Linked DNA regions of Homo sapiens: region 2 is linked to region 1. Evidence: fine-mapped expression QTL. A gene starts in region 1. The other region holds a variant in brackets. All regions are shown on one strand. Distances are from middle to middle.

Region 1 (4,390 bases):
CAGCACAGTGATTAGACATGTTATTGGCTCAAGTTATTGAGCCAATAACTTTTTTAGCTTTGTACTTTTCCCAGTCCATTAGCACAGAGCAGATGTTATTTATACTAGCAGTATAGATCAACTTCTAATAGGCAAAAACAAGACAACAACAACAACAAAAACCATCCCAACAGGTAATACTGAATGGTCTTAAGATTTTTGTCAATGGTGAATGGCACACATCCTTTGCGAGTGAACTTAACTTTTAAAAAGTAGCTCAAGGCCAAGCGCGGTGGCTCACACTTGTAATCCTAGCACTTTAGGAGGCCGAGGCAGACGGATCACTTGAGGTCAGGAGTTCAAGACCAGCCTGGCCAACATGGTGAAACCCTCTCTCTACTAAAAATACAAAAACTAGCCGGGCGTGGTGGCGCACGCCTGTAATCCCAGCAACGTGGGAGACTGAGACAGGAAAAATACTTGAACCCGGGAGTCAGAGGTTGCAGTTGAGCCGAGATCACGCCACTGCACTCCAGCGCGGGCGACAGGGCGAGACTCTGTCTCAAAAAAAAAAAAAAAGAAAAAAGAAAAGAAAGCTCAAAAATATATTCAAGGTAAATAAAAAAGTAGTTTCTTTTTAAGGGGAGAAAGAAGAGGGCATAAACAATAATACGCACACGAAATAAGTAGCACATAAGAGTACAAACTGGATCCACAAGCAATTCCTACTGCCCTGAAAAAACTATCCTAAGTCCAATTCACATCTGGAGGCGAGGGCTGGAGAGCCCTGAAAAAGGTAAGCAGGTTTTCAAAGACGTCAACGTAAAGTCGCCACCGCCGCCGTCTCCGCCTTTAAGGATTAAAAAAAAAAATAAAAGCCGCCCCTACCTCGGGCGCAAGACCTCAGAGGGAGAGCTGCGGCAGCTGCAGTGGCCTCAGGCCTTTAGCGTCTAAAGACTGGTTGCACCCCGACTCCACCTACCGGGCAACCACGCCGCCAGCCCCGCCTCCGCCTCCACCAATAGCGGCCCGGCGGCCCGGGCACGATGACCAATCGAACGCCGGAGGAGGCGTGGCGTCGCTGGGGGACCACGCGCCGTCCCAACAGGCTGGAAGGGTGCCGCCACGACTGGCCCCTCCAGGTAGGCCGCCGCCCGCGGGCGCACAGCGCTACCCGGCCAGCTCGCTGCGGCATCAACGGCTTCTCAGCGTCAGCGCTATTATCAGGCCTTGTGACCGTCCCAAATCTGCCCGGGTGCCCTTCCACCTGGCAGCCTACTCGCACCTTGTGGGGGCCGCGCGGGCACACTCCCCGGCACGCGTCCAGTCCAGGCCCCGGCAATTCCGCCCTTTACCGGGACATCGGCCCTACAGCGCCTGCCCCCAGGGCTGGCCTGCAGCTCCTGGCCTCTCCTCACTCCCTGCCCCCTTCTCAATTCCCTTAGTCAGACTCCTCTCCCGCCGCATCCTAAATCCTGAGCGCACCCTGGGGCGCGGAAAAGGGTAGCCGAGCCTTAGCAACGCCCCGAATTCTCCGGCCCGAGCCCGCGGTTCGGACCCCTGCCCTTCCTTCCCCGCAGTGCCCTCACCATAAGCGTTTCCACCGTGTCTCCGACATCTTGGGGTTGCAGCAGCGACGGACGTGAGTTCTGAATCATTGGAGATGAGGCCCGCGAGTCCTCTGGGCCCAGGGTGCCGTCGACGGGCGCTTGGGCCCAGCCCTGGAGGCCTTGAAGAAGGCTAGGGGGTGGCGCTAGCCAGGCGACGCGCTTTAAGCCGCGGGCTCTCTGACGTCTGCGCCTATAAGCACGCAGCCGCCGGGGTTCGGATCCTGCTAGTCCAGGGGCTGCGGGCGCGGAACAATCTTGCTGCGGGAATTACGCGCCGCTCTTCACCCGCGCCGCAGACTCCGCGGCTCTGCTCTCCTGCCCATCCTGCCCTGCTGCAGGCTTCAGCACCGTAGGAGATGAGGTTCTGTGTATCCCGGGGTGGAGGAAGCGCCGGAGGAACTCTGTAGAAGGGGAGATTTCGCTTCCGGGTGGGACGCTTGTCACGTGAGGGTGTTCTGAGTGCCACCTGGTGAAAACGCCCAGAACTGAAGGATCCGCGCTTCCTTGCACCCAGAACTTAATGGAGCGTCTGCAGGGAACTTTGCTTTTGCGTGGAACGTCTGAACGTATTTACAATCCAGACCTGGTCTGCCCAGTAAGGCAGCCACTAGCCAACGTGGGCTATTGATTTATTAATTGATACATTAATTTTAATTATATTAAAACAAGCAGTGTGGAATGCTTTCTCCTTAAACAGGCGTTTTTTTGTTTTGTTGTTTTTTTTTCAGGACCATATTTCCCTTTAAATGCTGAAAATTTAGTGTGGAATTGATATGTACTGTATGCATAAACCACACGCTGGATGTCTAAGACTGGTGAGGTAAAATCTCAATAATTTTTATATGTTGAAATGATATTTTGGATATATTGGGTTAGGTGAAATATTAAAATTAACTTCAGGCCGGGGGCAGTGGCCCAGGCCTGTAATCTCAGCACTTTGTGAGGCCTAGTCTGGAGGATTGCTTGAGGGAGCCAAGGAGTTGGAGACCAGCGTGGACGACAAAGCAAGACCCCGTCTCTAAAACAAATAATAATAACTTCATGTGTTTCTTTTTAAATGTGGCTAGTAAAACATTTAAACTTTAACATGTGGCTCCCATTACATTTCTGTAGGACAGCGCTGGTCTAGTTGGTCAAAATTCTGGTTTATTGCTCACCTGGAATCTGTCAATGGCTTTTTTGGTCTCCCAACTTCCCCTTATGCCTGTCTGGCTGATCCATGGAAAAGCATTACTGCTGGGATCCTGACACTCCTGTTGAAAATGCAGTGGCCCTGGTAATAAAGTCCAAGCTTTTCATAGCAACCTTCGCTACTTTCCACCTTCATTCATCACCCAAGAACTAGATCAGAAAGGAAAGTGACTTAGGGAGCAAGATAATATTTTTTCAGGCTTCATTCCTGTGCTTCTGAGGTACATAGAACAGGAAGGAAAGTGGTCCCAGAGGAGGTTATTCCCAGAAAGGATTAAGGAAAGTATAAACATTAAAAAAAAAAAAAAAATTACAGGCCGGGTGCGGTGGCTCACGCCTGTAATCCCAGCACTTTGGGAGGCCGAGGCGAGCCGATCACGAGGTCAGGAGATCGAGACCATCCTGGCTAACATGGTGAAATCCCGTCTCTGCTAAAAATATAGCCGGGTGTGGTGGCAGGCGCCTGTAGTCCCAGCTACTCGGGAGGCTGAAGCAGGAGAATGGCGTGAACCCAGGAAGTGGAGCTTGCAGTGGGCCGAGATCGTGCCACTGCACTGCAGCCTGGGCGACAGAGCGAGACTCCATCTCAAAAAACAAAACGAAACAAAATTACAAACCTGCCTGGTGATTGAATACTTTGCTACCCTTTGTTCTAAGCTGCAAGGCTTATTTTTCTTTGTGCAGTAGTGATGTTGATAACTATGCACTGAAACTTCTTTTTAAAGGAAGACCTAATTCCACCCTGACACCCACCCCCGCTGCACTGATTCCATAAGACAAGAATCCCTACTTTTGAGAAATCATGGGTTGGCGTATTTTAGAGACTGCTCTTGGCCACTCTGGGTGTGGGAACACAGGTGGGATCTAGAGTGAAAGCCGGCCCTCCACTCCCTCACCCTTCCAGGTATGCCTGCTTGGCTGTGGGCTCAGAAGAAATGGGCTGGCTTTCAAGGGTGGCAGCTGGCAGATTTCCCTCCTCTGTATCTGCTCCTGCCATGCTTACTCATAACTCTAAAGCCCACAGGCCCTTCTTTTCCCACATCTCCTCCCCTGGATGTTTGTGGGGATGCAGAGATATATAATGATCATGGGGAAAGAGCATCACCCATTGGCAGATGAGTGGGGGGTTTGGAGCAGTACTTAATGGCAAAGTTGGAGGAGTGAATTTTTTTTTTTAAAAAGAAAACATTGTGACTTTAATTCAAAACAAGGTCATTAGCATAAGGCAAGCCTTAATGGATTTATCTGCAGTCAAGGGAAGGTGATTTGGCTCTTATGACCTAACTTCCCTCAATTACACACTGGTCCCTCAAAGATCCAAAGTGGCCCATGTTTTCTGGATTGTATGATCAGGTTACATGATGTTTTCCCATCCCAAGGATTGTAGACACCCTCTACCCAGGAAGAAATACACATGTATCAGTTTGGATACATGACCTCCTCTTAAAACTTTATTCACAGCAAGTCTTGACATCTGGAGGAGTTTCCACCATCCAAGAAGGAAAAGGCAAAGGTCCACATGGGAAGCTGGAGGTGAATGGGAGAGACAGAGGCTGCTCAGATAGGGGCTTTGGTTTCCTGTCTGCCTGTCAGAGCAGGAGGAGGTGGGC
Region 2 (4,390 bases), 120 kb before region 1:
TTAAAACAATCATCATTCATGCAATAAAATACTACACAAGGAAAAAGAACAAACTGCTGACCTGCTGACATACATCAACACATTTTGATCTCACAGACATACCATTGAACAAAAGAAGTCAGACACAAGAAAACAAGCTGTGTGTACAGGAGGTTCAAGAACAGGCAAAACTAATCGATGGTGCTAGAAATCAGAGCATAGTTATATTTGGAGAAGGTGGGTTCCGACTCAGAAGGGGCAACAGGGGAGCTTGCTGGAGACTGAAAACAGTCCTTCTAGGAATGTGACAGATGCAGAAATAGTCCTACCTAACACTGCAAAACACCGAAGCCCACAGGGGACTTACGTGACTATCAATCAACAGGAATCAACTTAGTTAATGGGCATAAACTGGATACTGAGAATGTCTCTGCTCTCAACAAACTCAGGGTCAGGTTGGAGATGCATATGTGCAGTATGTAATTACAAAACACTGTTATGTTGGCCAATACAAGTGTGTACAAAGCATGGAAAAAGGATGGATTCCTTGAAGACAGAACCTATAATCTGGGTTTTTAAGGATGAGTACAGAACAATAACTAAATAACTTTGAGGGGATATTTTAATTTTTTTGTCTGTTGGTGTGGTTGTCTTCTACTACAAATAGAAATGACAGCTGAGAAGCAGGTAGAATGCAGTTACAAATACGTTGTTTTTGCACCTCTGTTTGTGATCATCAAAATTGTGTGTCACATCTGTTATGTATGTTAAAAATATTCTTTCCCAATGTTTCACTTGATTTTATCATGCAAAAATAGTTTTATGTAATTAAGTATCTTAGATCTTATTAAAGGTTTTGTATTTTTCCCAGAAAGTTTTCCCCATTCTGTCAGCTTTTAACATACTCATGATGCCCCATTTTAAAAGAAAATCCTCTCTGGATCCTGCTCCCGTGTCTTTTTGCTTCCCTATTACCCTCCTCTTTTGTATAGGTAAAGTTCTTGAAAAGGTATTAATATTTTTTCCCTCCATCTTTACATCTTCCACTCACTCACTCATCAGTGCACCCCACTGTGGCTCCTGGCCCTTTCCTCCCAAGGAAAAATGACTCTACATAGCTCCCCACAGACCTCCATGCTGCTAAACCAATTGCCTTCATATTTGGTCTCTCTCCATCTAAAGTCTTTCCTTTCCTGTGACACCACATTCTCCTAGATCTCCTCCTCTATCTCTAGTCTCTCCTTGTCCATTTCCCTTATAGGCTCATCTGCTTTTGGCAAATCTTTCATTTTTTTAACACTAAACTTTTAATGTTAGAGTTATTTAAGGTGTAATAAATACTAAATAATAAATGAAGTTACCTTCACCCATTTAATTTAACATTTACTATACACTTTGGTTTTGCCTGGCACAGTGCTCAGTTCACATACTGGACACAAAGCTAAATCATGCTGAGTCCAGTCCTCAAGAAACTTATCCACCAGTGGGAGATACAGGCAAGTAAGTGATTAGAATGCACATAATGTGCTAATGGCCAGAAAAACTTCATTTACTGAGACCAAATAAGTACAAGTCACTGAGATGAGGAAGTGGGTAGAGCAGATAAACATCCTGCTCACAATGAGCTCACCTTGTAGGTAGAGGAATGTCCACAGACATCAGTGAGTGTCATACAAGGCCAGCATGCTCTGCAACATGAGAATGTGCTGGTGCAATGGCATGAAAAGTCCACAGAAGAGAGGGCAATATGTTGGGCTAGAGAACAAGGTGAAACTTCATGGGCAGAGGCATTTCATCTGGCCAAAGATGAGGGCTTGGGAATGACTGATACCTAAGCAGATACACAGTGAATTGCATTACCCCCGAGAGCCCTCATCCTATCTGCATTGCAGAATTGGAAGACATAATAGAGCCAGGACACAGGCAATGAGGCAGGTGAAGTGTCTAGCCCATGTGACTGGGAACACAGTCATGCCATCAGCTAATCAGAGGTCGAAGTAGATGAGAAGGAGGGAGATCATCTCATGGGTCTGAGACACAATGAGTTTAAAGAGCCAAGGACATCCATGAAGAAACAGGCATTCTAAACTCAGGACCTAAAGCTCTCATTTTGAGAGCGCTTCACCTCATGGAAGGGGGCACAACGTCGGGCACGGATGAGATACCTGTGAACTCAGCGAGGAGTCAGTCAAGGGAAGGCTTCCAGGAGGAGGCGTGGACCTGCCTTCAAGCTGCAGGAAGAAGGAGTAATGGGTATTCAGAAAGGTAGGATGA[G/A]TAGCAGTCTCCTAGGAGAGAAATTGCTGAATTTTCAAAAGGAGATGATCAGATATATTCAAAGGAGCCCTTTACCCAGACAGGTATGTATAGACCAATGAGAAGCTGCAGCTGACTTATAGGGTCAGATTCATTGCAAAGACCCTAAACGTCTGCTAAGCCCTTCCCCAAGTCCTACATAGGTCGCGAAGTTCAGCTAGAGTTTCTCCTCCCATGGGAAATAATGAAGTGAAACACTTTAGGATTAACCTTCAGGAGTAATTTCTTCAGGTGCCCAGCACATGGAGACTGTTACTCAACTCTCCACAGGCAACCCAGGCATTCCCAATTCCTCTGGCCTTCTAGGGTCACCTTTTCCCAAACGGCTCAGGCACCCGTCACAAATAACAGAAAATTTAGCTCTTACTCCAACTGTTTGAGAAATAACTAGTATGTGATAAGAAGGAGATTTGAAGCCCACTGTGACTCTGAATTCCTTCCCTAATTGAATTCTCAAATCCCACTCACTGCTCCAGCTGATGTAATGCCTGGGTCACTGTATGCCCATCTGCACCCCCGCCCAGTCATTTCTTCCCCCAGCACTTCAGGGGAAAATTGTTTCTTACTCCATGACAACTTCCCTCACTCCCTGTCTCCCCCGACCATGTCCGGCAGGGGGCAGCATCACCTCTAGTTATCCATCGATGCATGGTCCTGAAGGAAAAAGTAATTCTCTTCCCTGGAAGAACCTCGCCATTCCTAACACAACCACCTGAAAATGCATCCAACTTTCAAAATAATGTTTTCTCCCTCCTTTAGTAAAATGTTTATATTTTTGAAAAGACTGGCGGGCGGATCACGAGGTCAGGAGATTGAGACCATCCTGGCCAACATGGTGAAACCCGGTGTCTACTAAAAATACAAAAATTAGCTGAGTGTGGTGGCACGTGCCTGTAATCCCAGCTACTCGGGCAGCTGAGGCAAGAGAATCGCTGGAACCCGGGAGGCGGAGATTGCAGCGAGCTGAGGTCGCGCCACTGCACTCCAGCCTGAGAGATAGAGCAAGACTCCGTCTCCAAAAACAAAAAAATAAAAACAAAAACAACAACAACAAAAAACTGCCCTCCTAACTCTTTTCCCAGGTGGCAGAAATACAGCACTTAGTTGGGGTACCTGCTTAAGCAGTTCTATATACTGCTTCCCCAACTATCGGCCCCATGCCACCCTCCAATTTAAAAACGCTAAGCCTCACATGCTAAATCAGAGTCATCGTTTTATAACACACCAGGATTGCTAGTAAATTCCTTGGAAATACAGGCTGTTAAATTAAGTTTAGCCTAAAGCCACATCCTTACATATTTTAAGTTCCACCTAACGGTTTATTTGTACATAGTAAACCGTAACCTAACCGGATGGGTACATTGTAACCCAGTCTTATACCAATCACAGAGTTTTAGTCAATCACAGACAGCCAACAGTGTTCAAATAGGCAAATTCCAGCTGTAAGCAGTCCAGCTGTTTCTGTACCTCACTTTTGGTTTCTATTTGTCACTTTCCTTTCTCTGTCCATCGATGTTTTCTGACCGTGTGGTGGCCCTGGAGTCCCTCTGAAACTAATCTGGTTCTGGGGACTGTCTGATCTGTGAATTGTTCTTTGCTGAATTAAACTCTGTTAAATTGAATTTGTTTTATTAAAGTTTTTCCTTTAATAAAGCAAATAACTAACAGCGAAGAAGTAACAGTTTACTGAGCACCATTGTGTATAGTTGTTTTGCATACTTTATCTCATTTTTTAATGTGGCATTATTAACAAACTAAAGATGGAAAATCTACAGAACATGACTAAGTCCATAAGCCAGTAAGAGGCAGCAAGGGATTTGAATCCACATCTGTGTGACTCCAGCATCCCAAGCACTTTAGACAGGTCCAACACTGTTTTGTGCTTCCTATAGACTCAACCCTCCTCCCAAGGAATAGGAGTCCAGGTGCTGGGCCCAGACTAGACTTCAGAGGACTAGAGATGGACCCAGGGGTGGGATAAGTCTCAAAGATCCATGAGTCTATGTCCTAGGGTGACAAAGACTGAAAGTTGGGGAAACAAATCACTCCAGAAGAGAAAGATAGAGAATGGAGTTTGGAGACTTCACAACAACAGAAA

The links. PIP is the estimated chance that this variant, and not a neighbour inherited with it, causes the effect. A credible set is the group of variants that fine-mapping cannot tell apart.
Region 2: its variant is the best candidate, but not a certain one, in a credible set for the expression of SLC25A38 in lung (TOPMed, PIP 0.66).

What each region holds. Positions count from the first base shown.
Region 1 is chr3:39,380,972-39,385,361 of GRCh38, reverse strand. It overlaps SLC25A38 (solute carrier family 25 member 38), which reads right to left and starts at 1,992. Exons shown (of 7, transcript NM_017875.4): 1 at 1,569-1,992. The coding sequence starts at 1,637. LOC105377644 (a long non-coding RNA gene) reads left to right here and starts at 1,037. Exons shown (of 3, transcript XR_007096252.1): 1 at 1,037-1,121; 2 at 2,318-2,409; 3 at 4,242-4,390. It overlaps LOC105377037 (a long non-coding RNA gene), which reads right to left. Exons shown (of 3, transcript XR_001740661.3): 3 at 4,210-4,390. RefSeq lists enhancers at 784-853, 1,324-1,373, 1,384-1,483, 1,504-1,683 and a silencer at 944-1,093.
Region 2 is chr3:39,497,287-39,501,676 of GRCh38, reverse strand. All of the region lies in intron 2 of MOBP (myelin associated oligodendrocyte basic protein), which reads right to left. Among named protein-coding and RNA genes, the nearest start is that of MOBP, 32 kb to the right of the region's middle. The variant G/A (reference allele first, on the strand shown) is at 2,254.